7 linked regions of the Homo sapiens genome follow. The protein of the gene in region 7 purifies or fractionates together with the protein of the main gene of each other region. This does not show direct contact. Each region holds a gene or a part of one and is shown on either strand. Other genes may lie near its edges.

Region 1 (4,461 bases), on a different chromosome or scaffold from region 7:
GAGCAAGTCATTTGTCCTTTTTGAGTCGTAATAGGAAAAAAAAAATGCCTGCCTAGCTATCCCTTCAGGTTGGGTTGTAAAGGTCAAAATTATAAATATCACAGCATTGTAAAGTACCATGTAAGTGGTAGATGTTATTCTAAAGGCTATATAAAAATTTGGCCTAATTTTTATGTAGATACTTCTATATGAACTACTTTTCCTATATAGATAGTTCTTATGAACTTATTTTTAGGAGGTGAGAGACATTTATTTTAAGTGATGAAAAATAATATTTTAAAATATTTTGAAATAATCATCTGTATCAGATTGGCAAACTGTGGCCCATGGGCCAAATTTGGCCTGCTGCCTGTTTTTGTAAATAAAGTTTAATGAAATGTAGTCATGCCCATTTATTTACATTTTAGAAACAACAGCAGAGTTGAGTATTTGTGTGTATTGCACTAGAACAGCATAATTGAGTAGTCGCAACAGATACATTATGCTCCACAAAGCCTAAATATTACTATCTGGCCTATGACAGAAAAGGTTTGCCAAACTCTGGTCTATTCCATTGGATATAATTTCAGTTGTTTTAATTCATATATCCAAGGCGGGTGGATCATCCGAGGTCAGGAGTCCGAGACCAGCCTGACCAGTGTGGTGAAACACCGTCTCTACTAAAAAAATACAAAAATTAGCTGGGTGTGGAGGCAGCTGTCTGTAATCCCAGCTACTCAGGAGGCTGAGGCAGGAGAATTGCTTGAACTGGGAGGTGGAGGTTGCAGTGAGCCAGGATTGCGCCATTGCACTCCAGCCTGGGCAACAAAAGCAAAACTCGGACTAAAAAAAAGAAAAACATCAATTTTTAAACATGTATTTTGTAGTATATAAGTACTACAAAATAGTAATACAATTTTGTATATAAATACTACAAAATAGTAATACAAAATTCACTATAAATAGTGAATTCAAGCCGATTAACTTGGTAATCAGGAAACCTAGTTTCTAGTCTTGGTCTTCTTACTAACCAGTTTTATAACTTTGAGCAAATAACTTAGCCTTATGTCACTTTCCTTATTTATTAAATAAAAGAATTAGTCTAGGTAAGTTTTTCTCAGTCACTGGTTAGTGGATTTTCAAGGCAAATGTTTACAGCCTGTTCCCTCCTTTCCTCAGCTCCCTTCCTCTTCCCTTTTACCCCTTCTTTCCTCATTCATTCTTGAGCTCCCTGCTGTGGAATTTGATAGTTTACCAGACAGCATTATAACTTGGGCTAGGAAACATTAGAGACCTAAGATTTCTTTCAGAGTTAATATTCTGTTCCAAGATGAAAATCCACTAGTATTCGTTGGGGGCTCTAAGTTATGTATCCTATACAGTTATTTAGGTATTTCTAATAAATAATTATTTTAACCTAGCAATTATGTTAGCTAGGAGCAGAAAGTTAAATCTCTTAAATTCTTGTATTCTTAGATGATCCAGTATTCCTGGAAGAAGCAGGGAAAGCAGAAAAAATTGTGATTTCCAGATCCACAAGCCCAACTTTCAACAAACAAACAAAGAGAGTTAGCTGGTCAAGCTTTAATTCTTTGGGACAGTATTTTACTGGTAAAATACCGAAGGCAACACCTGAGCTCGGGTCATCAGAGAATAGTGCCTCTAGTCCTCCCCGTTTCAAAACAGAGAAGATGGAAAGTAAAACTGTTTTGCCCTTCACTGATAAATGTGAATCCTCAAATCTGACAGTAAACACATCGTTTGGATCATGCCCTCAATCAGAAACCATTATTTCATCATTAAAGATTGATGCCACCCTTACTAGAAAAAATCATTCTGAACATCCGCTCTGTTCTGAAGAAGCCCTGGATCCAGACATTGAATTGTCTCTAGTAAGTGAAGAAGATAAACAGTCCACTTCAAATAGAGATTTTGAAACAGAAGCAGAAGATGAATCTATCTATTTTACACCTGAACTTTATGATCCTGAAGATACAGATGAAGAAAAAAATGACCTAGCTGAAACTGATAGAGGAAATAGATTGGCTAACAATTCAGATTGCATTTTAGCTAAAGACCTTTTTGAAATTAGAACTATAAAAGAAGTAGATTCAGCCAGAGAAGTGAAAGCTGAGGATTGCATAGATACAAAGTTGAATGGAATTCTGCATATTGAAGAAAGTAAAATTGATGACATTGATGGTAATGTAAAAACAACTTGGATAAATGAACTGGAACTGGGAAAAACTCATGAAATAGAAATAAAGAACTTTAAACCATCTCCTTCCAAAAATAAAGGCATGTTTCCTGGTTTTAAGTAATAATACTTAACTCTCAAGCTAAGTAAAAATATGTCATCATGCTTATGTTAAACTCTGTTGTAAGTAATAATTTGTAAATTGAATAAGTGGCATACTTTTTAAAAAACTATTTTATGTTCAGAAATGTAAATGTTATTATTCTTGAGTTTTTGGGTTTTTTTTTTTGAGACAGAGTCTTGGTCTGTTGCCCAGGCTGGAATGCAGTGGTGTGCTCTGGGCTCACTGCAACCTTCACCTCCAGGTTCAAGTGATTCTCCTGCCTCAGCCTTCTGAGTAGCTGGGACTACAGGTGTGCACCACCATGCCCAGCTAGTTTTTGTATTTTTAGTAGAGATGGGGTTTCACCATGTTGGCCAGGCTGGTCTCGAACTCCTGGCCTCGTGATCTGCCCTTCTCTGCCTCCCTAAGTTGCTGGGATTACAGGTGTGAGCCACAGTGCCTGGCCCATTCTTGAGTTTTGATAAAGTAATTCATACAAAGTACTGTCCTCAAATAAGTCTTCCTTAGCTAAATGCAATTTAAAATTATTCAAAGATCCTAGGGCACTTCTAGTTTCACGTAAATATTCATATTAGGTGGTTCTCTTCATCCATTTGTTTTCACACTGATACATAAAAATTAACAGCAGTCTAATCTAGTGACACCTCAGTCATATTTCGCTATAGATTTTACCTCAAATCAGTCCAAGACTTTTTCAGAGATCACCATTTGTCTTGAAAGGTTTATTTCGTTATTAAACTGCCTACTTATAAGTAATTAAGAGAAATTAAGAAAGTAGTATGCATTTTTAATTGAAATTGTTTTACATTCTTTGTATAATAAACCTAAAACCAAACATGTCATAAACAAATTGACGTAAAGATATAAAATGCCAAATGAAGTATTCCAAATTTTCTATTCTAATTATTTAGCTTCACCATCATTGTGGAAAAAAATACTAGATCCTGCTTAGTATTATATATTTTTCCTAGTGGATCAGTGAGTAATAAGTACCAAACACTAGACTAGAAGGTAATTTCTACATTGTTTAGAAAGGGTGAAACAATTTATCCCCTCTGGTATTGTTCTAGCATAAGCTTTAGTTATACAATGATTAAGATAGAAAACTTCATATATAAATTTGATAAGCAAACCCACATTTATAGCTGCAGCTAAAATATGTTTCCTTAGGGCACAGTAATCCTTTCTGTGAATTTTGACCTTGTTTGTGTTTTTGTGAATGAAGCTATATGTCTAATCAAAAATGATTATAAAAGAGGCTCATCTCTGACATCATTCCAAAAATACATTCATTGATCTCTTTTTAAGAAACATCTGTTATTCACTGGGCATTGGGACTTTTTGTGAGTAATTTGAATTGAAATTTTATGAGCTATCCAAGAATTCTGTATGGTCTATTATTTTCAAGTCAAAATTTCCAGTAAGGATTTACTTTACATTTCATTTGGATAAATGAATCATTATATAGGTATGTCTTTGCTTCCATTTTGAGACATTTAGATTTTTACAGCCTGTTTCTATAGCATTTGATGTTACAACTCTAAGCGTAGTTCAAAGACATTTAAATTGACAAGTTACCAGTTAAAGAATTTAGAATATATTAGATCCCATCTAGTATTATATATTTTTTCTAGTTGATCATTGAGCAGTAAATACCAAATACTCGATTAGAAGGTAATTTTTACATTGTTTTGAAAGGGTGAAACAATTTATCTCCTCTGGTATTATTCTTAAACCACAGATAGGGATAGTAGGGTAGTGAAACGAATAAATACCTGGTAGAAGACAAGAGACTTGGGCTCTACACCTGGCTCTGCCACTGATTTGCTAAGTCATATTGGCAATCACCACACCCTTCAGGGAATTAGTTTCATCTGTAAAATGCAGCGGTTAGTACTATAAAATCATACAAATTTCTTTGTGCTTTGAGAATCTATAAAGGAATGTCTGTTGATATTCTGAGTCGATTTTCATTTGCTTTTGTTCCAGAACGGTTAAAATAAAGCATATTATTTCATTTAAAAAGTAAAGTGGCTCTTACTCATTTACATTTAGGGAACGATGGTGACGTGGTTTGGCTATGTCCCCAGCCAGATCTCATCTTGAATTGTAGTTCCCATAATCCCGACGTGTTGTGGGAAGGACCCAGTGGGAGGTAATT
Region 2 (4,516 bases), on a different chromosome or scaffold from region 7:
CTTTATCATTTTTTATTTGAATTTATTTTTTCCTTTCATCCTTGTCTGACGAGTAATGAATCTTGAGAATATGTTCATACAATAATATGTATTATTTGTTCAGAAATGAAAGCTGGAACTCTATGCTTCCCAAGCAGTGTCTCTTTGGGGTGTAATTATTTCTCCCTTCTCATTGTTTCAAGGAAAACCAGCATTGGAATCAGCTGATTCAGGATGCTCAGAAGCGTGGTGCCATTATTAAGACCTGTGACAAAAACTATAGACATGATGCAGTGAAGATTCTGAAACTCAAGCCTGTGCTGCAGAGAAGTCTCACTCACCCTCCTACCATAGCCCCAGAGGGGTCCAGACCCCAGGGTGGTTTGCCCAGCAGCAAGCTAGACAGTGGATTTGCCAAGACATCTGTTGCTGCTTCTCTATACCACACACCCTCTGACTCCAAGGAAATTACTCTTACTGTTACTTCAAAGGACCCTGAAAGACCTCCTGTTCATGACCAACTTCAGGACCCACGACTGCTGAAGAGGATGGGCATTGAGGTCAAAGGAGGAATATTCCTTTGGGATCCACAACCCTCGAGCCCCCAGCATCCTGGAGCAACACCTCCTACGGGCGAGCCGGGCTTCCCTGTCGTTCACCAGGACCTGAGCCATATACAGCAGCCCGCTGCTGTAGTGGCTGCTCTGAGCAGCCACAAACCTCCCGTGCGGGGCGAACCTCCAGCTGCCAGTCCCGAGGCTTCCACGTGTCAGAGCAAATGTGATGACCCGGAAGAGGAGCTCTGTCACAGGAGAGAGGCCAGGGCTTTCAGTGAAGGGGAGCAGGAGAAGTGTGGTTCCGAGACCCATCACACCAGGAGGAACTCTAGGTGGGACAAGAGGACACTGGAGCAGGAGGACAGCAGTTCCAAGAAAAGAAAGCTTTTATAGGAAAGCCCAGTGACATGGGCCAGCAGCCACAGCATATTGTAAACTGAAGATGACCAGCTCGTGGGACCATCTAGATAAGCTTGTTTTTTGTAAGGAGTTTGTGTGCTGTTGGAAAACATGGAAAATGCATCCTTAACACCTGAGCCTCTGGTCATCTTCAGTATTTTCTGTCATTTGCAAAAGCTTTCAGAGGGCATTGTGTATCCGTAATAATGTCCTTGAAGTCAGAGACTGGAAATGTTGATCTCTTAGTCTTCTATAGACAAGGAGGTCAGACTGGAGTGAATGTTGTAAAAGTTGAAATGTATATTTGTATAGCAAATAACAAAATCCTTTTAAAATTTAATCTAGTAGACCGCTTTTCTTTCCCCCTGTTTAAAATGTTAATCAGTTTTCAACAGAACAAACTTTATATTACCAAAAAAAAAAAGATGGGAGGAGGGCGGGTCCTTTCAACCATTGTTAGAGCAAGACAGATAATTATTTAACAGCCTAGCTTGGAATAAGCTGAGTTAGTGCTGGTGGGTCAGGTGTCTCTGGCTCTATTAAAAAAAGCAAAAACCCCCCCAAAAACCTGGAGTCTCCTAGGGGACACTTTGGGCAGCACGGTTATGTTAGGTAAAGTCTTGCTGACATGGTGCATTTTTAGATAGAGTGCATTGGCCCAGGGTATTATATTTCTGTGATGAGTTCATTTACCTGTTTCAGTATGCACATAGTTCCCTAGCTAAAATTCCTAATCTTCTTGAGAGAGAAGAATATGGAGTGAAAGAATAATTCTTGAGCTATCATTCAAATGCTCCCAGCATATTGTGAGCCTTGTGTGACTGGTGAGGTACAGACATTTGGTTGCCAAATGCTAGATTAGCGCTGGGTCAGCTGTGGAAGAATCGCCTCAGCTTACAGATTGTCAGACAGATCTAACTAGTTTTCCAGAAAGCCTGGGAAGCTGTGTGTTCAACATTTCCCAAGGGATTCTGATCACCAGGCAGCTTGGGAACCACTGGGGCAGGCCAAATAGAATATTTTGGGCGGGAAAGAAGCACCCGATTTAAAATGAAGCGTAACCAGAGGAGTTCAGAACTGGGAAGAGAGTGGTAGACTTCCTGTGATCTTCAGAAATCATCTACCTGGTAAAAATACATGCTGTTTAGAATATCTGATAGGTGTTTCCAGCTACTATTAGAGGTGATAGTGCTTTTGTGGGGGAAAAAATTGGTCATGGTGAATGGAGATCGAGGAAGCTCGGGACAAGGGAGGGGTGGGCTGCCTGATTTTGTCCAGTTTTCCAAATATCCACGCAGTGAACTGGAGTATCCTAAACATGAGAATGTACAGTTGACAGTTGTAAAAACTAGGGATCTGTAGTGAATGCTGTGCAGCCCCATATCTCATTTGGGGGTAGGAAAATAGCTGAAGATTCATGTGCATTATTTGACATTTCCTTTGTCATCTGCTTTTTAAGCAAAAAAGGGTTTTGTGTTAGAAATTCTACTTGAGCAGATTATAAAGAGCTTTAAAAAACAACTTTCGGTTGCCAAAAGTTTGAGCATTTGATTTCATTACCTGTGTCTCCCTCACTGGTGTCCAGACGGTCAACTGAATACTCCTGAAACCCAGGGAGCAGGTGACTTCCTGGAGTGCTTTGTCCCCAGAGTCAGCCACTGCTTCCTCTGTGGGGGTGGAGAGTTTGTCTTTGGCCATGCAGTGTGCGACAGTTCAGGACGGGTAGGGATGGGTCCCATTCTGTCTGGGTCAAGGGCTCTATCAGCTTCTTCCATGTGCCTTTGGGAAGAAATCTCGTTACTTTAAGTTTGCTTTCCTGTTATCTTGATGAAGTGCCCATTTTAGCAGACACTTGTAGTGCTGACCACTTAGGGAATGTACAAACTCCTAAGCTTCTAAAGGGAGGCATGGCAAAAACGTTGGGGTCAGGATGTCTCTCACGCTGCTCATGTTAATACTATTAACACATGATTTGAGAAATAAGTTTTCTCTAAAATGCATATTTTGCCGCCACACACTGAACAATATTATTTCCAGTGAAGTTTGATGCCTGTTCTTACGTTGTGTTCACCTGTTGGTTCACCACTCAGCAGATCTGATTCTGCAAGAATTAATGGTAGAACTAGATCATCCTTTCTAACAGACGAGCCTGTGTCCTGTGACGGCCTTTCACAGCGGAATGCAGTTGTACCTCACATTACTTTTGAAACTTCACTCGTTCCAGTTGGTACAAGTATTTGCCAAAGCCATTTCCTATGTTCACCGTGGCCCCTCCTGATGTGGCTGTCAGCGCAGCGTTGTTGAACAGGGCTATTCTTTTTACAAGGTGTGAAGTGTGGCTCTTCGCTTCGTCTTTGCCATGGCATTAAAAGAAAGTTCCCTGTCTTCTTTCAATATTAGTTATTTCAAATGAATATGTGCTACTTAAAAGCTTGTTTTGTTTCTTTGTATATAATTTGCCTTGGATTTATTGTGCACAGTTTGTTGAGTTGTATGTTTTTGTGAATTATCAGGAGTAAATTTGACAAGTACATGTGAATAACCTCCTGTAAATGAATTTTATAACAAAAATGTACTGAACTATTTTTTAAAGTTGTGCAGATTAGCAATTTTTTGCTATAGCTTTGACTTTTCTATGCTGTGAATTAATAGCTGCGATTTGGCAAACAGCCCTGTTGTCTTTGTTAAACCCTAAATTTTAAGAGGAAATGGCAGAATTAAAAGCAGAAACAAGAAGATGGACATGGATTAGAGGTTATGTATTATGAAGTAAACTACAAGGTACTAACATCATTTCGTCTGCCATTTGGTTTGCTTTATGCTGAAATTACTTGGTGGGGATTTGTGCAATTCAGATATAAAAAGTTTCATTATCCAGCCCGGCCCTCCTTCCTAGCTCCTTTTGGAATCTTCTCTGTACAGTAATGAGGTGCATTGAGGCCAGCTGTGCTGTTTAGTTACAGACTGAAGTTTGGTCCAACAGAAATATGTGCTGATCATTAGGCTGGAATTGGGGTGGAGGTGAGATAGGAGGAACAGATGAACAGTGACCCGTGAAAGGAGCTGCCAGAAGCACTGGTGGAGGGACAGGGTAGAATTGCCCTTGCCAGGGGTAATTGCTGATGGTTATGGAAGTGGAACACACTTTATAAAACAATAAACTTCAGGAAATGTAGTCAGCTTCCCCACACTTGTGCCTGTTAAAAGGCACTTGACCTCCGCCTCTGTGTCTCCTTCTGTACCCAGAAGTGTGTGCACACAGCCCACTTGGCCTGCTTGGCTTGTTCAGTATGCATACACAAATTACCAGGGAGGGTAAAATGGTGTGTTTGGGACTTAGGGGGAGTAATAAATTTGCCCAATGGCCTGGCGAGAGATGAGTGCTGCATGGTGGTCATTTGTGGAATTGGTTATGCAGCAGCCTTAGTGATGGTTTTTGAAGTCACCAGACATCTCTTTCCTGACCCATCCGCCCCCACAATCGCCCCCACCTCCTGGGTTTCACCATTCATTGAGGAATAAATAATTGAGGGACGAAACTAAAATTTAGCCTCAGCTCAAATAGAATTGATAATGTTGTA
Region 3 (4,516 bases), on a different chromosome or scaffold from region 7:
TATTTACCTGGTGTTCACAGTGTTTGCAGACCATATTACTAGTGAGTCTTCCATGAAAAGGATGTTGAGACTTCCAGTGATTGGATGTAGGGTGAGGTGACCCTGGAATGCAAAAAGTTTTTTGATATGTCACTTTTAGCCCTTTGGCACCAAGCTCAACATTCATCTTCCTTTCTAGCATGTGGTAGAAACTACCTCTTAAGAAAAAATATTCTTGAAAAGTACATTGAAATAGCTTTCCTCATTGACTTCCATCCAAAAGACATCCCATTCCTTCATAGGAGAATTTACACAGATCTATCTTTATATACGGTTTCTGTATAATGGGTAGAGCCACATTTTAAAAAGGAATTTGTGTTGAATAATGTCTTTTTACAAACATATGCTTAAAATGTTTGAGATGTCAAAAGAAGGATACCACAAGTGAACATTCCATAAAGCGAGATAAAATCTTCTGAAATAAACAGAATAAGCAAGTTCTGAATAACTAGGCCTTTCTTTGGCTAGAATGGGGTTTAATGGAAAGAACATAAGTGAGAAACCTGGGCTCTGGAGTTGTGCAGCCCAGGGATCAGCTCTGGCTGTGCTTCTTATTCACTACCTGACCTGGGAATGCCTTTAATCTCTACAAGCCTCAGTGTGCGGAAAATTGGGATAGTTATTATCCCATTAACTCCAGTATCATCAACTTTGTAGAGTTGTTATGAGGCTTAAATGAGATAATGCAATGCCTGGCAAACAGCATGGGCTCAAAAAATATTTGTTCCTATTACTACACAGAGGAATTAATATGCTAATCTTATTTTTTAAGTCTTAAGAAAACAACAATTTCCTCCTAAGGATGACTGTGGTAATATGCAATAGAATTTGGCAGCACTGGAAATGCTGAGGACACGACAGATTCAGCTCATTATGTTCTTCCCAGGATCAATTCAAAAAGGTAAAAAGAAAGCCCTTGTTTGAAGTACAAATAAGCCAGTTTCAAGAAAAGTCAGCTGGGCTGGGGTGCAAGGGAACACCAAGAGAATCTATTTAAAGCTATTTCCAAAATACAAGTTCCTTTGCAAGCACATCACACTTCAAGCTGGCCTGTATGTCACCAGAAAAAAATCTTTTTAAAACAAGCAAATTATTATCATATCTTAAAAGTCCACATCTTATGTGTTATATTTCAATGGAAAACAGCTACCTCTTGTGCGGCAGGTAATTTGTTTGGGAGTTATTTCTGACTGCTGCTGTAGGGGAGAAAAAAAAAAAACAGACTGAAAACCTTACTATAATCCCTTTCACCACCCTCACCCCACCCCTAAACCTTACAAGTTTCTACGTTGATTACACCACTAAAAATCAACTTTTAACAAAGCTCAGGTTTCTAAAGGTAGCCTCAATTAGCCTATCTGGCTGGATACTATGAATATTCTTTCATCAAATGCAATAGAAACATATTTCTTCTCTCCAGAATATTTTCATCCTTACTGGTTAACTTTTGTCAACTCCTCCGATATTTATACTGTTACAGGGAAATGAGGGCTCACTTAGCATTCCTATGGCCCCTGTTCCCCTGTATTAAACAGGAAAAAATAACACATTCTTTATTCTCAAAGCCAACACAAATTGCAGCAATGAATCATTTGAAAGAGCCTTGACATCCCTAATCAGATCACCAACTGCAAAGCATGTAGTTTTAAGACCCTCCCCTGGCCTCATTCCCACCACTGATTTTTACTGAATCTTACTTTTAAAGTTGTACAAAGATTACACTTGCCTCCCCTATACTTATTAAATATGCACAAGCTGCACAGAACGTGTTGGAAATATTAATGGTTTACCTCCAGGGAATGCACATCAAACAAATGTGTGACCCGAGGCTGGCGGTCTCGCTCATCTTCCAATGACGAGGTAATGACATGGAATAATTCGTGAGCATCCTGTCATAGGGCAAAGCATTCTTTAGAGAGGTTGGAAGAGGCAAGAGCAAGATCAGAACTACCCACCTCGGGCAGACACCCTACAGTGAATGTGGGTAGAATTTGCTTTCTACCTTCTCAAGGCCCAGCTCATTAAAGAAAACAGTTATGTCCTGGACACTGTCACGAGTGAAGACCCTCAAGCAAGAGGTCCAGGAGCAGAGAGCAGGAGAGAAAGCCAGGTGGCTGCCTTCACGCCAGCAGTCTATGAGACCATTCTGTTTCACTGAGACAGCCTTGACCTCCACTCCGATTTCAAAAGATTATGTTTTTTGTTAATTGTGGTAAAATACACATATCATAACATTTATCATCTTAACATGAATGATTCTGTGGCATTAAGTACATTCATGTTGTTGTACAATCATCACTGCCATCCATCTTCAGAACTTTCTCATCTTCCCCAGCTGAAACTCCATATCTGTTAAACACTGATTTCCCATTTCCCCTTCCCCAACCCCTGGCACCCACCATTCTTTATCTCTCTAGGAATCTGATTACTCTGGGAACCTCACACAAGTGGAATCATACAGTGTTGGTCTTTGTGACTGGCTTATTTTCCTCGGCATAACGTCTTCAAGCTTCACCTATGTTGTAGCATACTGCAGAATTTCCTTCCTTTTTAAGGCTGAATAATATTCCATTGTATGAAAGTTTTGTTTACCTATTTATCAGCCGATGAACACTTGGGTTGCTTCTACCCCTTGGCTATTGCGAACATGCTGCTATTAACCTGAGTATACAAATACCCTACTGAGTCCCTGCTTTGAATTCTTTTGGTTTGTACCCAGCAGCGGGGTTGCTGGATCCAATGGCATGGGACTACTCTTGAAGGATCAACTCAAATGGCTCTCTCCCCAAAAACCCAAGCCACCCCTCACTCTTCCGGGAGTAACGGGGTCACAACACAGGCCCTCTGCTTCTCCTTTGGTGTCCCCTCACACTGCCACCAGAGCAATACTTTAAAAGGCAGATAGCTTTACTCTTCTGCTTTTAGCTTTCCAATGGCTTCCACTACTAGAGTAAAACCTACCATTCTTATCTGGCCTACAAAGCCCCCAACATTCACAATGTCCCGGCCCCTGGCCTCTTTGCTGTTCCTTGAACATATCCAGCTTATTCCCATTTCGGGCTGTGCTCAGACCTTCGCACGGCTACCTCCTATCCTTCAGGTCTCTGCCAAAAGAGCTCCTCCACAGGGCATACTCCCCAACCAATTATCCAAAGCTGCCTCCACCCCTCTGAACTCTAACCCACCCTCAGCCAATTCAGCAGCAGTCCTGAAAAAAGGACCCTCCTCCAAAATACGCCCTAAATTCCTGAGGACTCTCAGCTACCCTGCTTCGACCCCAGTCTGAGCCACACCATCTCGGCCAGATAACTGCAGCGGCCTCCCACCTTTCCTCTCGGCTTGCATTCTTGCCCCTCCAGCCTTCCTTTTCTAACAAGTCAGATCAAACCAGTCCCCAGTTCAAAGTCCTCTAGTGGCTCCCCGCTGCAAACACAATAGAAGCTGATGCCGCCCGCAGCCTCCTAGTCCCTGCACAATCTGCTCCCTGCCAACTTCGCCAGCCCCTCTCCTCCACCGCCCTCCCCGCCCTGGCCTCCCTGCCATTCTCCACAGGTGGCAGCTTTATAACCATCTCCAGACTTATACCCTAGCTTCTTCATCTGTCTGGAATGCTCTGTACCCAGGTGTCCACACACTTCACTCTCTTTTATACTTCCGGTCTCCGCTGAAACCTCACCTCCTGAGAGGAGCCTCCCTACCTGGAGCAGTCTCCCCCTGTAGCTTGGCTCCTCCTCCTCTGCCCTCCCTATCCATGCCATGTTACACCAGCTAGTTTCTTGTTAGCATATCCTGAAATCCCCTGCTTACTGTCTGCACCGACCCCTGCCTGCTATCCTCATCCCCCACTGGAATACCAGCTCTAAGAGAGCAGGAAACTCCTGCAAGTCATGTCTGCTGCTACGACTCCATTGCCCTCGACAGTCCCCACCCCAGGCAGGCATTCAATAAATACTTGTTGCCTATATAAATGAATTCCCTCCTGGGCTATAAAACTGCAGCTGTAGAGTGGAAGTAGAGATTCAAAGATAAATAAGGCAAGGCTCTAGCCCCTGAGGGACTCACAATCCAGGGGAGGTGTGGCAGCCTAGCTATTAGCCAACGGCACACCAGAGGTGCAGCCCTGTACAGATGAACAGGAAGCAGGGAACCTGGAGGAGAATCAGCACTTCCTGGGAGGCTCAAGGAGCCCTCACACACCAGGCATCTGGGCCCAGGCTTGAAGCAGATCCGAGAAAGGATGGAGGTGGATCTATAACCTAAACCGTGGGTCAGCCATGTAACAACTAGGCCTTAAGGAAAGGGACAGCACTGCAGAGGAGGGGGAGCTTGAATGTGCACTGTAGCACTAGACTGTCTTAAATCCTGGCTCTGCCCCTTAAATAGCTGCATGATTCTGGGCAAATCATTCCACTTCTCTGAGCCTCAGTGTTTTTCCATCTGTAAAATGGGGACAACAGTAATTCCTTACATGGTTATT
Region 4 (4,516 bases), on a different chromosome or scaffold from region 7:
TAAGCAAAATGCTGATGTGAGCCCTGAAAATCAAGGGCATTGCTCTGAGTGAGCTGTGTTCCCCATAAAAATCATATGTTGATGCCCTAACACCCAACGTGACTGTATATGGAGACAGGATCTTTAGAAGGTAATTAAAATTAAATGAGGCCACAAGGGTGGAGCCTTAATCTGATAAAATTATGGCCTCATAAAAACAGAGAGAGATCTCTCCTCTGTCCCTCCACCTTGTAAGAACACAGCAAGTCAGCCATCTGCAAGCCAGGAAGAGAGGTCTCAATAGGAATCAAATTTGCCGACACCTTGATCTTGGACTTCTCAGCCTCCAGAAGCATAAGAAAATAAACTCTCGTTGTTTAAACCACCCAATCCATGACATTTTATTATGGCAGCCAAGGAGATAAAAGACAGGCACAAATCCCACTGTTGGGCTACAACTGCCATGGAGGGTAGTGCTATCTGTCTACACAACACCCACTGCCCATGACCTCCGTCTATGGAAGCCAACGTTGTTCAGGCACACAACACTTTGACAGCCATGGGACACGGCAAAGGTGTGCTGCTTCCTCCAGAAGGCATTTTCTTTCTTTCTTTCTTTCTTTTTTTGAAACAGAGTCTCACTCTGTTGCCCAGGCTGGAGTGCAGTGCTCGGCTCACTGCAACCTCTGCCTCCCAGGTTCAAGGGATTCTCGTGCCTCAGCCACCCGAGTAGCAGGGATTACAGGCATGCAAAACCATGCCTGGCTAGTTTTTGTATTTTTAATAGAGACTGGGATTCACAATATTGGTCAGGCTGGTCTCGAGTGCCTGGCCTCAAGTGATCCTCCTGCCTCAGTCTCCCAAGGTGCTACTGCACCCGGCCCCAGGAGGCATTTTCTAACAAATCTAAATCATTGCTTCTCAAACACCTCGTGCTTTCAGAACCACTTGGGGATGCGTGATTCCAACCTCAAACCAAATGAAACAAAATTTCTTCGTGTGAGACCTGGGCATCAGTACTTCCAAAATGTGCCCCCCAAAATTCTGGTGCCCAGATGGGGCTGCAAACCACTGGCTGAGGCTGGACATGGTGGCTCATGCTGTAATCCCAGCACTATAGGAGGCCGAGGCAGGAGGATCACTTGAGGCCAGGAGTTCTAAACCAGCCTGGCCAACATGGTGAAACCCCGTCTCTACCAAAAATATAAAAAATTAGCCAGGTATGGTGGTGTGCACCTATGGTCCTAGCTACTCAAGGGGATGAGGTTGGGAGGATTGCTTGAGCCTAGGAAGCAGAGGCTGCAGTGAGCTGAGATCATGGCACTGCACTTCAGCCTGAATGACAGAGCAAGACTCCATCTCAAAAAAAAAGGAAAAGAAAAACCAGTGGTTGAAATAAATTGGTAATGCAAGAGTCTTCATTAGGCAGGTGACCAAAGCTGGATTCTCATTGTGAAAAGAAAGCATTTATTCCAAGGTGGGAGGATGGATTGAACATGGGGGCCTGCTGCCCCAGTCAAGGCTGCAGCACCCAGCATCCCTATGAGGAGCCAGCCTGAGGACAATCAGAAGCCTGAACCAAGAAGAAGGAACAGAGAACCAAGACATCCTTGATGGCGTCACTGGGCTGCGGCACCGAACAAGCCTGGAGCCAACCACACCTCAGGCTTCTCATCAGGCGAGTTAGTGAATTTCCTTCCAGGTGAAGCCAGTTTGATCTGGTTTTCTGTTATATGCAGCCAAATGCTTTCCACTAGATGTGGTGAGTAAAAGACAGGAGGATTCTGTATAGAAGACCAATGACTGAGGTACAAGGATCCACAGAAACATCGACTGGCAGATTCTGAACCATAGCCCAGGATTCCTTCAGACATGTCACAGTAAGGTCCACCAATGTGTGCTACATGCCTGGCTTTGAGTTCTGGGACAGGGCTGTGGGAAAGGTGAATCAGATGATCCTTTGGCTCTCCCAAGAGCTGAGCTCCCTGTCACTTTTCACACGCTGGTTCCTCCACCTGGAACACTGTTACCCTCTTCCACCTCCTTCTATCCAGCTAACTCCTACTCAGCTTTCAGGTCTCAGCTCCACTGTCACTTCCTGAGATGCCCTCTTTGGAACTCCCACAATAGGTTATGACATCCTGCTTATTTATTCCTAAATTCCCCTCATTTTTCTTTCTAGAACTTATTTCAGTTGTCATCTATGGATTGATGTCCACCTTCCCAACTGAACTCAGAGTGTGCCATCAATTCTAATAACTTCTTTATCCTGACCCACTTTTGTTAAATATTGTATTCTAAAAGGGAACCTTGTTTTGCTCTGGTAAGTGAGAAAGTCAATTTCCCTTCCTACAAATAGAAGTCTGCAATCACAACACAACAAAATCAAAACAATGCCACTAAGTCCCAGGAAACCCTTGTATGTTTCTTAGGGCTAAGTTGGAGGTTGTCCCCTCTGTTAAAAAAAAGAAATGAACTGCACTGGGGGAGTGAAAGGAAAATGAAAGACTCAGCGCTGATCTGAGACTTTTCTTTTTTTTTGAGCCGGAGTCTTGCTCAGTCACCCAGGCTAGAATGCACTGGCGCAATGTTGGCTCACTGCAACCTCCGCCTCCCAGGTTCAAGCGATTCTCCTGCTTCAAACTCCTGAGTAGCTGGGATTACAGGCGCGCACCACTGCGCCCAGCTAATTTTTGTATTTTTAGTACAGACGGGGTTTCACCATCTTGGCCAGGTTGGTATTGAACTCCTGACCTCGTGATCCACCCGCCTCGGCCTCCCAAAGTGCTGGGATTACAGGCGTGAGCCACCACACCCAGCTGATGAGACTTTTATGACAAGAATTAGCGTGCTGGACAGAGAAAGTAAAAGGAATGGCTTTATCAGGGTATCAAACCATGCCATTTGAGGACATTCCTGTGTACCCTCTAAAAACACCTCCTGGATCAACAGAGCATGGATATCAAGCATCAGAAAACAACTAATGACCATGCAGGCACCCAGATGCCTTTTTACAGAGATTGTATTGCTTAGGAAGATATCCGAGGGGCACTGAGGACAAATGTCTTCTGGGGGGCTGCCTGACTCACCCCTTTCTCTAAGAACAGCCCATCACCCATGGCCCCTGCTTAATAGGGCTGTGGCCACAGCTGACCCCACCAGGATGGCCAATCAGCTTCCTTCTTATGCAATCTTGATTAAGGACCTCAGAATGGGCTGAGCACTGGAGTGAGGGTTTGTGTTAAAAGGACATTTTCTACCCCGACAATCTCTGATGCAGACAAAGGGAGACCAGTCAGGAAGAGGTGGGAACAGAAAGGTCTGTCAAGAGAAAGGTGGGCAGTTCCAGTGACCTTTTTGCCTGGCCAAGAATCAGGGTTAGGGTCCTCCTCAGGGATGAGAGGTGAGTCATTACCTAGTGAAACCAGAAGCCCACAGGTCTCCAGCATCACCTCTCGGTACAGGGTCCTCTGGGCCAGGTCCAGCTGTCTCCACTCCTCCCGGGTAAAGGTCACAGCCACATCCTTGAAGGTCACCAACATCTGGAAAGTCAAACAGAAGTAATGCTATTGGCCTTGTGTTGTCGCATAGGATCAGAACCTGTCACTCAGTCTCTAGTCAATGTGCAGAGAGATCCAGGTCTGAATCAACTAGGTCTCCTTTGGGCTGACTTCCGTGCAGGGCTCAAAGGGGAGGCAGATACTGCCTTTTGACAATGCAATTGTGCCTGAGAGAAAAGCCTTCTATGGGGAAGCTGTTGAAGATGACACAAACAATGGCAATCCCACGAGGACTATGGGAAGCAGAGAGTAAGTACTCTGGCATATTAAAAGAATGGAGGAAAATGACTGATACTAATCCAACCACAATAACAGCAACAGCAGCAGCTAAGTGTGGGGGAAAGAAAAATAGATCAGACCGTTACTGTGTCTATGTAGAAAAAGGAAGACATAAGAAACTCCATTTTGATCTGTACTAAGAAAAATTCTTCTGCCTTGAGATGCTGTTAATCTGTAACCCTAGCCCCAACCCTGTGCTCACAGAAACATGTGCTGTATTGACTCAAGGTTTAATGGAGTTAGGGCTGTGCAGGATGTGCCTTGGTAAACATGTGTTTGCAGGCAGTATGCTTGGTAAAAGTCATCGCCATTCTCCCGTCTCGGGTACCCAGGGACACAATGCACTGCGGAAGGCCACAGGGACCTCTGCCCGAGAAAGCCTGGGTATTGTCCAAGGTTTCCCCCCACTGAGACAGCCTGAGATGTGGCCTCGTGGGAAGGGAAAGACCTTACCTTCCCTCAGCCCGACACCCATAAAGGGTCTGTGCTGACGAGGATTCATGAAAGAGGAAGGCCTCTTTGCAGTTGAGATAAGAGGAAGGCATCTGTCTCCTGCTTGTCCCTGGGAATGGAATGTCTTGGTGTAAAACCCGAGCGTACATTCTATTTACTGAGATAGGAGAAAGCCGCCTTATGGCTGGAGGTAAGACATGCTGGCGGCAATACTGCTCTTTACTGCACTGAGATGTTTGGGTAAA
Region 5 (4,516 bases), on a different chromosome or scaffold from region 7:
AGTAATCCAGGGAGGGGGTTGTAAAATTCTGCTAAAGACCAAGACTATAGATTCAATAAACTTCTTATCAAATTCCAGTGGCCTTTTTCACAGTAATGAAAATAGAATTCTAAAATTTATATGGAATTACAATAGACTTGGCATAGCCAAAGCAATCTATAGGAAAAAGAACAAGGCAAGAGGCATAATATTTTCTGTTTTCAAGTGACATTTTAGGACTACAGTAGTAAGAACAGGATGGTATGCGAACAGAGAGGAAAACTGCCGCAGAGACCAATGGGACAGAACAGAGAGCCCAGAATTAAACTCATGCATATCCACTTAACTAATCTTTCACAAGTTCACGAAGAAGATACAATACAGACAGTATAGTCTCTTCAACACTTGGTCCTGGAGAAACAGAATACCCGCAATCAAAATAATGAAATAGCCCATTTTTCTTACACCATACTCAAAAATTAACTTGAAATCAAGCCTAAAATGTAAAACATGTATCCTTAAAAACTCTGAGAGAAAACCTCTGATATTGGTCTTGGCAATCATTTTTTAGACACGACACCAAAAGTACAGCAACAAAAGTAAATATAAACAAAATGGAGTACATTAAGCTAAAAAGCTTGTGACACCAAAGACAATTTACAATCAAACTTTTGGATACTAGGATGGCTAATATCAAAAATAAGTAACATATTAGGGCTGTGCAAAAGTAATTGTGGTTTTTGCCTTCTAAATAGTAAGAAATACTCTTACTTTTGCGCCAATCTACTAACAATGTTGATAAGGATGTAAAGAAAAAACAATTCTGAACGCTCAGAGTTCTCAACTGGTAGAGTCATTATGAAAACCAGGGTGGGGGGGCGTTATTTAAAAGTTAGAAAAAGATAAACCTACCCTGCAACGCAGCAATCACACTTCTGTGTATATAATAACTGAAGGGAATAAAAGCAGCATCTTGAAGAATTATCTGCTCCCTCATGTTCACTGCAGCATTATTCACAATTGTCAAGATATAAAGACAAGCTAAACGTTTGCGGATGCTGAATGGATAAAGAAAATGTGATATAAATAGACAATAGAATATTACTCAGCCATAAAAAAGGAATGAAATCCTGTCATTCAACCACGTGGATGACCCTGAAGGACATCCTGCTAAATAAACTCAGCCAGGCCCCAAAGACAGAGACTGCACGTTCCCCCTCAGACGTGGAATCTGTCGTGGCTGAACTCACAGGAGCAGAGGACAATGGCAGTTGCCAGGGCCTGGAGTTGGGGAAAATGAGCTGTTGTTCAAAAGGTACAAACTTTCAGTTGTAAGATGAGTAAGTTTGGGGAATCTAATGAGTAGCTTCACGAATACTATTAATAATCTTTTGTATGCTTAAAGTTTGCCAACGGTAGACATTAACTGTTCTCACTACAAGAAAAGGTAATTACGTGAAGTGATAGATTTGTTCCTTGAAGTGATTGCACTAATTATTTCACAACGTATACACATATCAAATTATTACATTGTACACAATATATACACAATTTTTATTTCTAAAATAATCTGTTACACATATGCCCACATAGACACACTGTATATATGTGTGTGTATATATACATGAATGGATAAAGAAAATATGATTTAAATAGACAACAGAATATTACTCCAGCATAAAAAAGAATGAAATCCTATCATTTCAAAAGGATATGTTGATATATTATATATACACACATATATGATATATACACACACATATATACACACATATATACACACATATATACATATGCACACATACATACATATGAATGACAGAGTCCTGATAAGCCTCATACTAAAAAAGAAGAAATTATAAAATGATAATATTATAACTATTACAGTTGGGAGTTAGGGAATATAAAGTTTAAATGACCAACCTCAGCTCATACTAAAAAAAATAAAATAAAATGTTGAAGTAAAATAACATTAGATTATCTCATATTTGGGCAGATGCCTAGTGTTCGGAGAAAACTGCTGAGTATACATTTCTGTAGACTCCCATTTGAAACCTCTGTAGGATACGAAATCATAAAGCAGAAAGCATACAACATCTGTTTACGGGACTTCTGGGATTTCTGAACCAATCACCATCACCACGCCTCTCGCACACTTCAGACATGATGCAAAGGAAATCAAAAAACATTTAACAGAGTTCCTCAAAAACAGGCAGGTACAGGCATGTTCCCAAAAGCAGTGGCGGAGCACGCCATGAGACCACACAGGCCCTTACTCGTCAGGAGGAGGACTCTGATTTTTACTGTAACCTTTATAAAGGAAGATCACTAAACAGGAAGCAGAGTCTATACAAAATTTGAGAGAATGAGACAGAAGACGCTCCTAGGGTACAGCAAGAGAAAGACACCCAGGCTCTCAGAAACCATCTCCACTAGGGCAGAGCTTCTCAAACCACATTTTAAGGTCTGGCTTCCTCCTCGACCTCTGGACCTCTCACCTGGGTTACCTGCTTCGTTCATTCCCACCCACCTGGATGTCCGTCTGCTGCCTCCTGTCTCTTCACATTCCAGGGCTCTTTTCGTTGCTCCAGGCAGGTGATCAGGCCTGGCTTACAGACAGTGAGACCTGTTTTATTAGAAAAAAGTGACATTACTCTTGCTGAAATTCTCCAATTATCAACCTTGTACTGTGCTTAGTAGAGTGAACATTATATAAGATTCTAGAAAATTAATCCCAAAATTATGCTTCCTGACATCACCTTTAGAATATTCAGTAAGTATTTTAAATCTGTGGGTTCTTAGTTTCACCACTCAGTACTGCTGACATAAAAAATTGGTGGTGGAAATTTGACTTTAAGTTGTGGGCAACAATATTTCATGCCACTGAATTTCTGGAATTGTCACTAGAGTGAAAGATACAGATCAGCTGAAAAAAAAGGAAGGTTTATGTCAAGATGAACCACATTTTGAAGATTTTTTTTTTTTTTACATCAACTATTCCCCATGTTTTTCTTAAAAGCAGGGATCTGAAACTCATTCATGCAACGCAGAAACTCCCAAAAAACATTCCGCAGAGGAACGAAAGGAACTCTTTAGGGCATAGGAGGAACTACGTATTGAAGTTATCCTCACCAACGGAGAACAAGTTTCTGTAGTTCTCCAACATCACATCCCTGTACAAATTCTGCTGAGCGAGGTCCAGGCATTTCCACTCCTCCAGGGAGAATTCTATGGCCACATCCCTGAACGTCAACAGAGTCTGAAGAAGAAACAACAACAATAACAAATACTTGATTCGAGGTGAAATGAGCGAGTGAAGAGAACTGGTTCTGACTTACACAAGTGACTGAAATTATACAATAAGGTAATTCTTAGCAGAAGAATACTCTCTAACTCTGAGGAAAGAGAATTGCCTGAGAGCCACATAAGCAGTGTATATACAATACTTTTCTGGTTGATAACAAGTATAACATTAAGGGCATCAACAAAGGCATGTCCATTTTTGAGTGCTACATTTACGTCACATGAATAAGCTGTGTATATTTCGCAGGCAGAAAAGTCATGGTGAGTTAGAAGCTGCCTCTCCAATTTTCATGTGTCCAATAAACTAGTGTGCAGATTTTGCTTCAGGAAATCGGAGGTCAAGGCTGAGTTTCCGAATTTCTAACGCGCTCACCAGTGATGCCAGTCCTTTGGGCCCAAGGACAATATTTTGTCAAAAATCCTGTAAGTGGCAAGCTTGGGTTTATCCCAGTTTTTCTAAACCATAAAGAGAGATGAGATTCTTCATCTTCTAAAGCAAGGCATATGCAAAAAGAATCTAAGAAGCAAAACCTTTCAGATTAAATGTGATTATTTATGCACATTAATTAGTAAATCTCCTCAAGGTACTTAAAAGAGAAAAAAATAAACTCCACAATGGAAAATCTGTCAGGGAGCTCTTTAAACAACTGAATAAAACTAATATCAACTGTAATAGGACAGATTTTTATCACGTGCCAATGCACAGAGAAGGACATATTACTGGTGTGATATTGGCCAAAAGGTCAATTATAATCTGAATCAAATCATACCGAAACCTTAGTGTTATGCAAAGTTCAAGAGACAAATAAATATCTCCCAGGTTCTGACAAATATCTCCCAGGTTCTGACAAATATTTCCCAGGTCCTGACAAATATCTCCCAGGTTCTGACAAATAAATATCTCCCAGGTTCTGACAAATAAATATCTCCTATGTTCTGACAAATATCTCCCAGGTTCTGACAAATATCTCCCAGGTTCTGTAATCTGTTTTCTTTTGTCTTGAGACTGAGTCTCACTCTGTAGCCCAGGCTGGAGTGCAGTGGCGCGATCTCGGCTCACTGCTACCTCTGCCTCCCTGGTTCAGGCAATTCTCGTCCCTCAGCCTCCGGAGTAGATGGAACTACCCACATGTGCCACCACGCTTGGATAATTTTTGTATTTTTTTAGTAGAGATGGGGTTTCACCATGTTGGTCAGGCTGGTCTCGAACTCCTGGCCCCAAGCGATCTGCCCA
Region 6 (3,441 bases), on a different chromosome or scaffold from region 7:
ACAGAGCAAGACTCAAAAAAAAAAAAAAAAAAGCTTCCTAGTTCTGAGCACAGTGGCTCACACCTGTAATCCCAGCACTTTGGGAGGCTGTGGCAGGAGGATTGCTTAAGCCGAGGAGTCCAAGACCAGCCTGAGTAACATAGCAAGACCCTGTTTCTACAAAAATATAAAAATAAAAAAGCCTCCCACCTCAACCTGAGCAGACTCGTTGACCAGGACTGGGTCACAGGCCCATTCTGTGGCCAGGACATTTGGCATGAGTCAGTCATTTGAAGGTAGAATCGACTCATGTCAAGAAGTTGCCACTGGGACGCACTGGTCCAGATGATGGAGGAGGAAGCTTGAGTTGCTATGGAGATGAATTCATTGTGGCTCCTCTATCCATCTGGCCCCAGGAGGCCTTGTCGGTAGAAAGAATGAAGGAACGCTGGACCATCTCAACTGTTCCCTGGATCTGGGACTCCCAACCAACCCCAGAAGCCAAGAACTCATCACGGAAACCAAAATAAGATTGTTTTATTCCAATCCTGAAGAACAATAGTCCAAACAATTCCCCTCCCCTGCTGGAGACTCTCCTGACCCCCAGTGCCCGCCCTCCCTCTCTCTTCAGAAGGCGATGGGGGTCGATGTCTCCAGGTCTTGGAGAAAAACCAAAACCACGCCCCTTGCATTTCGTCTCTACCCGTCTCCCACACATTTCTTTTGTCTCATCTCCGATTTTTCTTCCCCCTCCTACATCCCGTCCCTTCCTCTCCTGCTTCCCCCAGCTTTTCCTCATGTCTTCATTTCTGTCTCTTTGCTTGTCCTCTCTCCTCCATTTCCGGCTCCCCTTTCCATTTTTTCTCGCTTACCTCCTCTCCTTCATCTGTCTTCTGTACTTTCTCCCTTTCCCCTCTCCCCGCTGCACTCCCTAGACTGGCCAGTCTACTCTTGCCAGACACTCCCCATATGATCGCTTCCTCCCCCTCCCCCCAGCTCTGCCCCTTTCCTTCCTTCTGTCCCAGCCTGACCCTGTCTACACCTCTCATCACATGCTTCCTCTCCAGAGGGAAGCCCTCAGAATCCACCCTGCCCATCAACACCTTCCCAAGCTGTGGCTCCAGGACCTCAGAGACCACTTACAGCTTGCCCTTGGACCCAGAGAGGCAAACTGCCATGAGGAGGTCCCTGGATGACCCAGAAGGTGGCCAGGGGGACTGCAACGGTCTCCTTGGCCTCAGCCCTATTATCTTTGGGATCGAAGAATGCCCTCCGACCCTCCTGGTGGAGGGTGGTGGGCAGAGGCATGAAGGGTCAGGGCTCTGGGGCTCTCCCCCAGCAATCCCTGAGCAGGTCCATGTGGAATAAGGCAGCCCCAGTGAGGAGGCGCGCTGCAAAGAGGTGTCTGCAGGGCAGACGGCGGGCGGCGTGAATTGAGCAGCTGCAGCGTGTCAGGGCCCCATCCAGGAAGAAGTCCGAGGTGCCGTCCTTAAGGGCAAAGCCAGCTCCGGTCCAGTGGAAACCCCGGGTCCCATGCTGCCTAGCAAAGGCCAACTCCTCAGCCACCAGGTCTGCCAGCTCTGGCCCGCAGGCTGCTCGGAATTTGGCCAGGGGTTCCCAGTCCACCTCCTCCTCTCCCGGGGGTCGGCAAAGCCTCTTTGGTTCCCTGGGGCCATCTTCGCCTCCTTCCTGCAGGCCGTCACCTGCAGCCAGGTGTTCACTCCTCGCCGCTGCCCATTCTGGGCTGCCTTCCAATACAGTCCCCACCGGGGTGCCAGACACGACTCCATTCCCCAGCCCTAGACACCGCCCTCCTGCGTCTCCCCACTCCATCCCTCGTCCGGCTCGGCTCTTGGGGCCCACGGACCGGGCTCCCCCTCCATCTCCATTCTCCATGCCTGTGACCCTCGTGTCTCCCAGCTGGACCAGAACTATATCCTCCAGGCCCCTTCTTCTTTTGACCCCCACCCTCGCTCCCCTCTCCTCTGCAATCTCTGGCCCTCTCCTCCTCTCATCTTCCCACTGGGGTCCCCTTTGGTCTCCGTTCTCAGGGGCCAACTCCAGGGACTTCTCCAAGGGGATCCCCCTCAAGTTTCTGACCTCCAGCCCCCTCCCCTTCTCTACTTCTGACTGTGGCCCCTTCCATTCTGCAGTTCTCAGTCCCCCTGCCCTTTCATCGTGCAGCTGCGCCCCCCTCCAGGGGCTTCCTTCAAGACTCCTGACCCTCTCATAGTCAAACTGGGTCCCCCTCAGGTCGGTGGTACTCCTGCGATCTTCCAGCTGGGCCACCCTCCAGGTATACCCTTCCAATCCTCTTAGCGCCTGGTCCTCCAACTGGGACCCCCTCCAGACATAACCTTCCAGTCCCCAATCTTTCTCACCCTCCAACTGGGGCCCCCTCCAGTCTCTAATCTCTGGCCCTCTCAGGTGCCCTTTCTCTAACTTCGACCCTCTCAAGACACCCCCTTCCAGTCCCCTCGGCTTCTGATTCTCCAACCGACCCCCTCTCCAATCTCTGATCTGCAGTGCCCTCCCCTTCTCACCTTCGAACTGAGCCCCGCCCCAGTCTCTGGTTTCCAGTGCCCTTGCCCACTCCTTCTCCATCTGGGCTCCCCTCCAAATACTTCCTTCTTTCGGAGCCCCTCCCCAGTCGCCTGTCTCCAGGCCCCTCACCCTCTCGTTCTCCCCCTGGGCTCCCCTCCCTGGCTCATCCTCCAGCCAAGGCCCCCCGCCATCGGGCCCCTCGGGCACCGCCTCCCCGGCCGCGTCGGCCCACTGCATGGCCACCAGGTCGCGAAGGCACTGCGCCACGCCACGCGAGGGGCTGAGACGACGCAGCAGTCGCCGGCGGTGGCCTCGCACCAGGGCACACGCGTCCAGGTCTCTGGCCGCCTCGAAGGCGCGGAAGCGGACCCACATGTCGCGGCGGGGCTCCCAGTTGCGCTCGAAGTAGTCCACGAAGGCGGCTGGGCCGTGGGCGTGGAGCTCGGCCAGCGCCTCGTCGTAGGCTGCGGGCGACGACGCGCCAGCCAGGCGGCACAGGCGCGACCACAGGCCCGGGTCCTCGCGGCCGGCGCCGCCCAGCTCCTGCGCCTTGCTGAAGAGCGTCTCCAGGCCCTGCGCGCGGCAGATCTGCACGCGCGCGCAGGGCAGCAGCTGGCGCACTGCAGGCAACTGCGCCGCCACCTCGGGCCCGGCGGTGAGGCAGCGCACGCGGCCCTTGACGTCTGGCGCGCTCTGCAGCAGCGACGCGAGCGCGAAGCGCAGCAGGCTCGGTGTGCCCGGGCGCGCCACGCAGCAGGCAGCCTGGCGCGCACGGCCCGAGCCGTCCACGCACAGCACGGCCAGCAGATCCAGCGCGCCCTGCAGCCCCGGCAGCCGGTCCACCAGCAGCATGCGAGGGAAGCGCCGCAGCAGCGCCCTGGTGCGCGACGTCAGGAAGAACACCGTCTCCACCACAGC
Region 7 (4,516 bases):
GATACTTTGTATCTATGACACAAAGACAAATCATCATAGTGGTCACTGAGATGGAAGCACATTTTTGCTTCTATAGTGGACATTGCTGTTGATAGCCCATGCATTTTTCTTTTCATTAAAGTACTTTGGGAGATCCTGTAGCATAGGATTTGGGGGTCAAATAGATCCCGAGAATGAATATCAGCAATGTGGCTTATTAGCTGACTTAGTGATTCTTTGTGGAGTTGTGAAGAATAAATCATCTATGACAAGTCCCCAGCATAGGTCAGCTCGCAGGGAACAGTGGGGACCAGTAGTAAAGGCCATTCTGGCTTGAGTATTAAGGGGCAGGAGATTTCCTCTGAATATAAAGAGGAAATATGACCCTGTTCGTGTATGAAGACTATCCCACACTTATTTCTTGAGATACCAGTTTTTTATTTTTCCGTTGGTTCTTCCTTGTCCTATTAGTAGCCACAATAGGGAGATGGGGCAAGATTTGGCACTCGTATATATTTCTTCTGTAATCTTCCTTAGTTTGCTGGGATCCTGCTCCCTACGGGTTTACTCTCTAGACTCACTGCATAAGACGGAGGAATGATGAAGTAGAAAATACAGGCATATGGCAGGAGAACTTTCAAGGACTTTAATTTTGTGTCAAGTCTATAAAGACCTTTTCCTAATAGCTGTTGTGTTTGCTAAGACTTTCACTCTTTGTTTTTTGTTTTTTTTTTTTTGGTCTAACTGGGAAAGATGAATGTGAATCTACTATGTTTTAGGTTATATTCATTTTTACAATCTTTATATAACAAGATAAAACAAACTTCATGGATAGCATAGATGGCAAGAAACATGGCATAGTGAGTAGAGTGTTGATTTTACAGCACAATTTAAATCCTGGCTCTGACGTTTACTGGAGTTCTGGGTCGGCTAAAGTTTAACTAAAGATGCAGTTTCCTCTTGTAAAATGTTAGTATTAATACTAGTCTTACTAGTTTTGCATAGTTAGTAGTGTATATAATATATACTAACATATACTATATATGCATATGCACACATATATACACATACATATACACACACATACACACAAGCATGTGGTATATGTAGCATATGCCGGGGACATAGTAAATGCTAAAAAAAAAAGTTGCTTAAAATATGATTCATAGAACATGAAAATCACGATGTAATTATAATTAGGTATATTTTATGAACTCAAAATCACATTGCAACACGGAGCTAAAATACAAGGTCAAGCGCGGTGGCTCATGCCTGTAATCCTAGCATTCTGGGAGGCTGAGGCAGGCGGATTGCCTGAGCTCAGGAGTTTGAGACCAGCCTGGGCAACACAGTGAAACCCCATCTCTACTAAAATACAAAAAAAATTAGCTGGGTGTGGCCATGTGCCCTTGTAGTCCCAGCTACTCGGGAGGCTGAGGCAGGAGAATTGCTTGAACCCGGGAGGCGGAGGTTGCAGTGAGCCGAGATCGCACCATTGCACTCCAGCCTGGGCAACAGAGTGAGACTCCATCTCAAAAAAAATAAATAAATAAAAAAAAAGAAAGAAATACAAGGTATACTTGTATGTATTTATGTACATATGTATTATTAAGATTTATTCTACCTACTCCATTTTTGGAAGAAAAAATGACTGTTATTGTAAAAGTGATACTGTCTCAGTTTTTTAAAAAAGTTAAATGAAAAGGAAAGAAATAAAGAAAAAGTCATACCAAATGTCCCATCAAAATATAATCACCGTAAGCTAATTATGAACATCATTCTAGATTCCTCTCTAGAAATATATGCCAAAAGAAGAGTCGATAAAATGACTGATAGTTGCATATGGACAGGCAGAAATAATTTTCTAAAACTAGGATGATGATGATATGCTAATTTAAGTAAGAATAAGAAAATATAAGATTGTCAATGCGACAAAAGAAGAAATACATAAAATTTAATGAATTGCTAATAGATAAATGTTTCTTCTCAAAGATATTTATTCCTGAAGTTAATGGAAAAGATTAAGAAAAACTTTAAGATGTTGAATTACACTTATTTTACCAATTACAAATTTCCGTTTTATAAGTATTATTGACTTTCTCTAATGATAAATGAGAAGCATATTTTCACTTCTTCCCACCTCCTTGTTTCTTAGATCCTGGTTTACATTTCATTTCACTTATTATATTATACTTATTATATATTATAATTTATTATATTCATTATATTATAATTATGTTTGTGTTGTCAGGGTTGTTGATATTAATGTTAAATTATGTAATTTCATTTTAAACATTATTTTCCTATTTAAATGTTTATTATCTGTTTTGTTATCTGGTTTCCTTTACCTCTGAATTCCTTGATTTGATTGACTCTAATTACAGTTTATCATTTTTTTCCTAAAGTAGGTCCATGCACTCTATTCTTTGAATTTTATATACAATTGAGAGTATTTGTCTTTTACCTTTATCCTTGAAGGACAACTAACCAGATGCAGATTCTGTATTTTACTTTTTCTCTCAGAACATTATAGATATTGTGTGTGCTCTGTAAAATTCTAAGGCAAATTGATTTTCCCAAATTTCATGAATTGTTTACTTCTTTATCCTTGAAATTAAATTATTTTGCTAAGATATATTTGAATTTCTTGTCTAACTCTATATTTTGTCCTGCGTAACTGTGCCCCTGTTTATGACTTCAGTTAGGCCTGTGTTCTGGTGACATAATGTATATCTTCTGAAGTCTAAATCTGTACAGTTGATCCTTGAACAACACAGGTCAGGATTGCCTGGGTCCACTTGTATGTGGATTTTTTTCAATAAGTATTTGGAAAATTTTTGGAAATATATAACAATTTGAAAAAACTCTCAGATAAACTGCATAATCTAGAAATATAAAAAATCTAAGAAAAATATATGCCATGAATGCTTAAAATCTATGCAGGCACTAGTCTATTTATGGCTTAATAGACTATCTTTTTGCTAAGGCTTGCAGTCAACAGTAGACTATTAGTAGTTAAGTTTTGGGGGAGCAAAATTATATGCAGGTTTTCAGGGGCAGAGGGTGTCAGTACACCTAACCCCAGGTTGTTCAAGGGTCAGCTGTATTTTCGATTTTCTATTGGGTGTTTTCACCAAGATATCCCAAAATATCTCAAATTAAGTATGTCTAGAAACACATTTTTCTTCCTTCCATTTTCCCATCCGAGGTCCTCCGAGCTGACACATCTTTTTCTTATTCCCTCTCTCCATGGATAGCAGCACAACTTTACTTACCTGTACAAGGTGAAATTTGTATGGCAGCCTTGATTTCTCCCTCTTATAGTCAATGTTCAACTGTTGGTTGATTCTACTAAACTAATATTTCTTGAAGCCATCAGATTCTCACCATATAATAAAATATGCCTATTGCTTAATAATTTGTTAAATTTCCACAAAACTATTTTGAAGAAAGATTTAATCTCCAGTACCTGGCATAATGGGTGATGCATTTTGATGTTCAGTATTAATGGAATAAATAAAAATCACTTCCCAATCTGACATGACATAATGGGACATTATACAACAGCTTCTTATTTACCACCACACAAGAGCTTTTTAGTTTTATCTACATCTATATCTATCTGTCCAACTGTCCATCCATCCAACTATGTGTTTTAATTGTGATAAAAAAAACACACAACATAAAAGTTACCATATTAATCATTTTACATTGTAGACTTAAGTAGTGTTAAGTATATTCACATTGTCTTGCAACAGATCTCCAGAGCTTTTTCATCTTGCATAACAGAAACTATATTATACAACAGTTCCCCTTTTTCCTTTCTCTCCATCACTTGGTGAAGTGCCATTTTAGTTTCTGATTATATGAATTGAACTACTTTAGATGCCTCATATAAGTGGAATCATACAGAATTTGTCTTTTTATAACTGACTCATTTTACTAGCATAATGTCTTTAAGATTCATCCATGTTATAATTATATGTGACAAGATTTTCCTCCTTTTAAAGGCTGAATAATATTCCATTGTAGGTATATGCCATTTTGTTTGTCCATTCATTAGTTGATGGCCATTTGGATTGCTTGTACTTCTTTTATTGTGAGTAGTGCTGCAATGAACACGAGTGGGCAGATATCTCCTCAAAACCCTACTTTCAATTTTTCTGGATATGTACACAGAAGCAGGTTTGCTGGATCATATGGTAGTTCTAATTTTTTGAGGATCTCCCTACTAATAATAATAATTTGAAACAAAAAGTCCCTTTAATCTTCACAATAGTCCTATGGTATTAACACTTTTTATTATACTTATGTGAAGATTATGGTTTACATTAAGGTGAATTTCTAAAAATCACACAGCTTGGGACAAGAAACCATTTGGATTCTAAGGCCCTTGCTTTAAATCACTGGTTTCCAAATTCTAATGATAACGTAACTCATTTGCTAAAAAAGATTCCCCCAGTATATACACTTTTATAAACTACATCTATATAACACTCTACCAATACTTAACCCATTATAAACTATATTTAAAAGT

Evidence for each region.
Region 1: the proteins of NOL4 (region 7) and BRIP1 purify together in Homo sapiens (affinity purification with mass spectrometry; one large-scale study listed by BioGRID and IntAct). This does not show direct contact.
Region 2: the proteins of NOL4 (region 7) and SETX purify together in Homo sapiens (affinity purification with mass spectrometry; one large-scale study listed by BioGRID and IntAct). This does not show direct contact.
Region 3: the proteins of NOL4 (region 7) and USP30 purify together in Homo sapiens (affinity purification with mass spectrometry; one large-scale study listed by BioGRID and IntAct). This does not show direct contact.
Region 4: the proteins of NOL4 (region 7) and ZNF550 purify together in Homo sapiens (affinity purification with mass spectrometry; one large-scale study listed by BioGRID and IntAct). This does not show direct contact.
Region 5: the proteins of NOL4 (region 7) and ZNF195 purify together in Homo sapiens (affinity purification with mass spectrometry; one large-scale study listed by BioGRID and IntAct). This does not show direct contact.
Region 6: the proteins of NOL4 (region 7) and ZSWIM9 purify together in Homo sapiens (affinity purification with mass spectrometry; one large-scale study listed by BioGRID and IntAct). This does not show direct contact.

Annotation. Positions count from the first base shown.
Region 1 is NC_000017.11:61,681,135-61,685,595, reverse strand, and holds part of BRIP1 (Fanconi anemia group J protein), read left to right. Parts: intron 1-1,455; coding exon 1,456-2,300; 3' UTR 2,301-4,461. UniProt on the Homo sapiens protein: DNA-dependent ATPase and 5'-3' DNA helicase required for the maintenance of chromosomal stability. Acts late in the Fanconi anemia pathway, after FANCD2 ubiquitination.
Region 2 is NC_000009.12:132,260,652-132,265,167, reverse strand, and holds the end of SETX (probable helicase senataxin), read left to right. Parts: intron 1-182; coding exon 183-929; 3' UTR 930-3,812; downstream 3,813-4,516. UniProt on the Homo sapiens protein: Probable RNA/DNA helicase involved in diverse aspects of RNA metabolism and genomic integrity.
Region 3 is NC_000012.12:109,069,024-109,073,539, reverse strand, and holds part of USP30 (ubiquitin carboxyl-terminal hydrolase 30), read right to left. Parts: intron 1,929-4,516; coding exon 1,830-1,928; intron 1,236-1,829; coding exon 1,190-1,235; intron 103-1,189; coding exon 8-102; intron 1-7. UniProt on the Homo sapiens protein: Deubiquitinating enzyme tethered to the mitochondrial outer membrane that acts as a key inhibitor of mitophagy by counteracting the action of parkin (PRKN): hydrolyzes ubiquitin attached by parkin on target proteins, such as RHOT1/MIRO1 and TOMM20, thereby blocking parkin's ability to drive mitophagy.
Region 4 is NC_000019.10:57,552,837-57,557,352, forward strand, and holds part of ZNF550 (zinc finger protein 550), read right to left. Parts: intron 3,522-4,516; coding exon 3,395-3,521; intron 1-3,394. UniProt on the Homo sapiens protein: May be involved in transcriptional regulation.
Region 5 is NC_000011.10:3,368,466-3,372,981, forward strand, and holds part of ZNF195 (zinc finger protein 195), read right to left. Parts: intron 3,239-4,516; coding exon 3,112-3,238; intron 2,606-3,111; coding exon 2,510-2,605; intron 1-2,509. UniProt on the Homo sapiens protein: May be involved in transcriptional regulation.
Region 6 is NC_000019.10:48,194,680-48,198,120, reverse strand, and holds the end of ZSWIM9 (uncharacterized protein ZSWIM9), read right to left. Parts: coding exon 1,294-3,441; 3' UTR 501-1,293; downstream 1-500.
Region 7 is NC_000018.10:34,214,300-34,218,815, reverse strand, and holds part of NOL4 (nucleolar protein 4), read left to right. Parts: intron 1-4,516.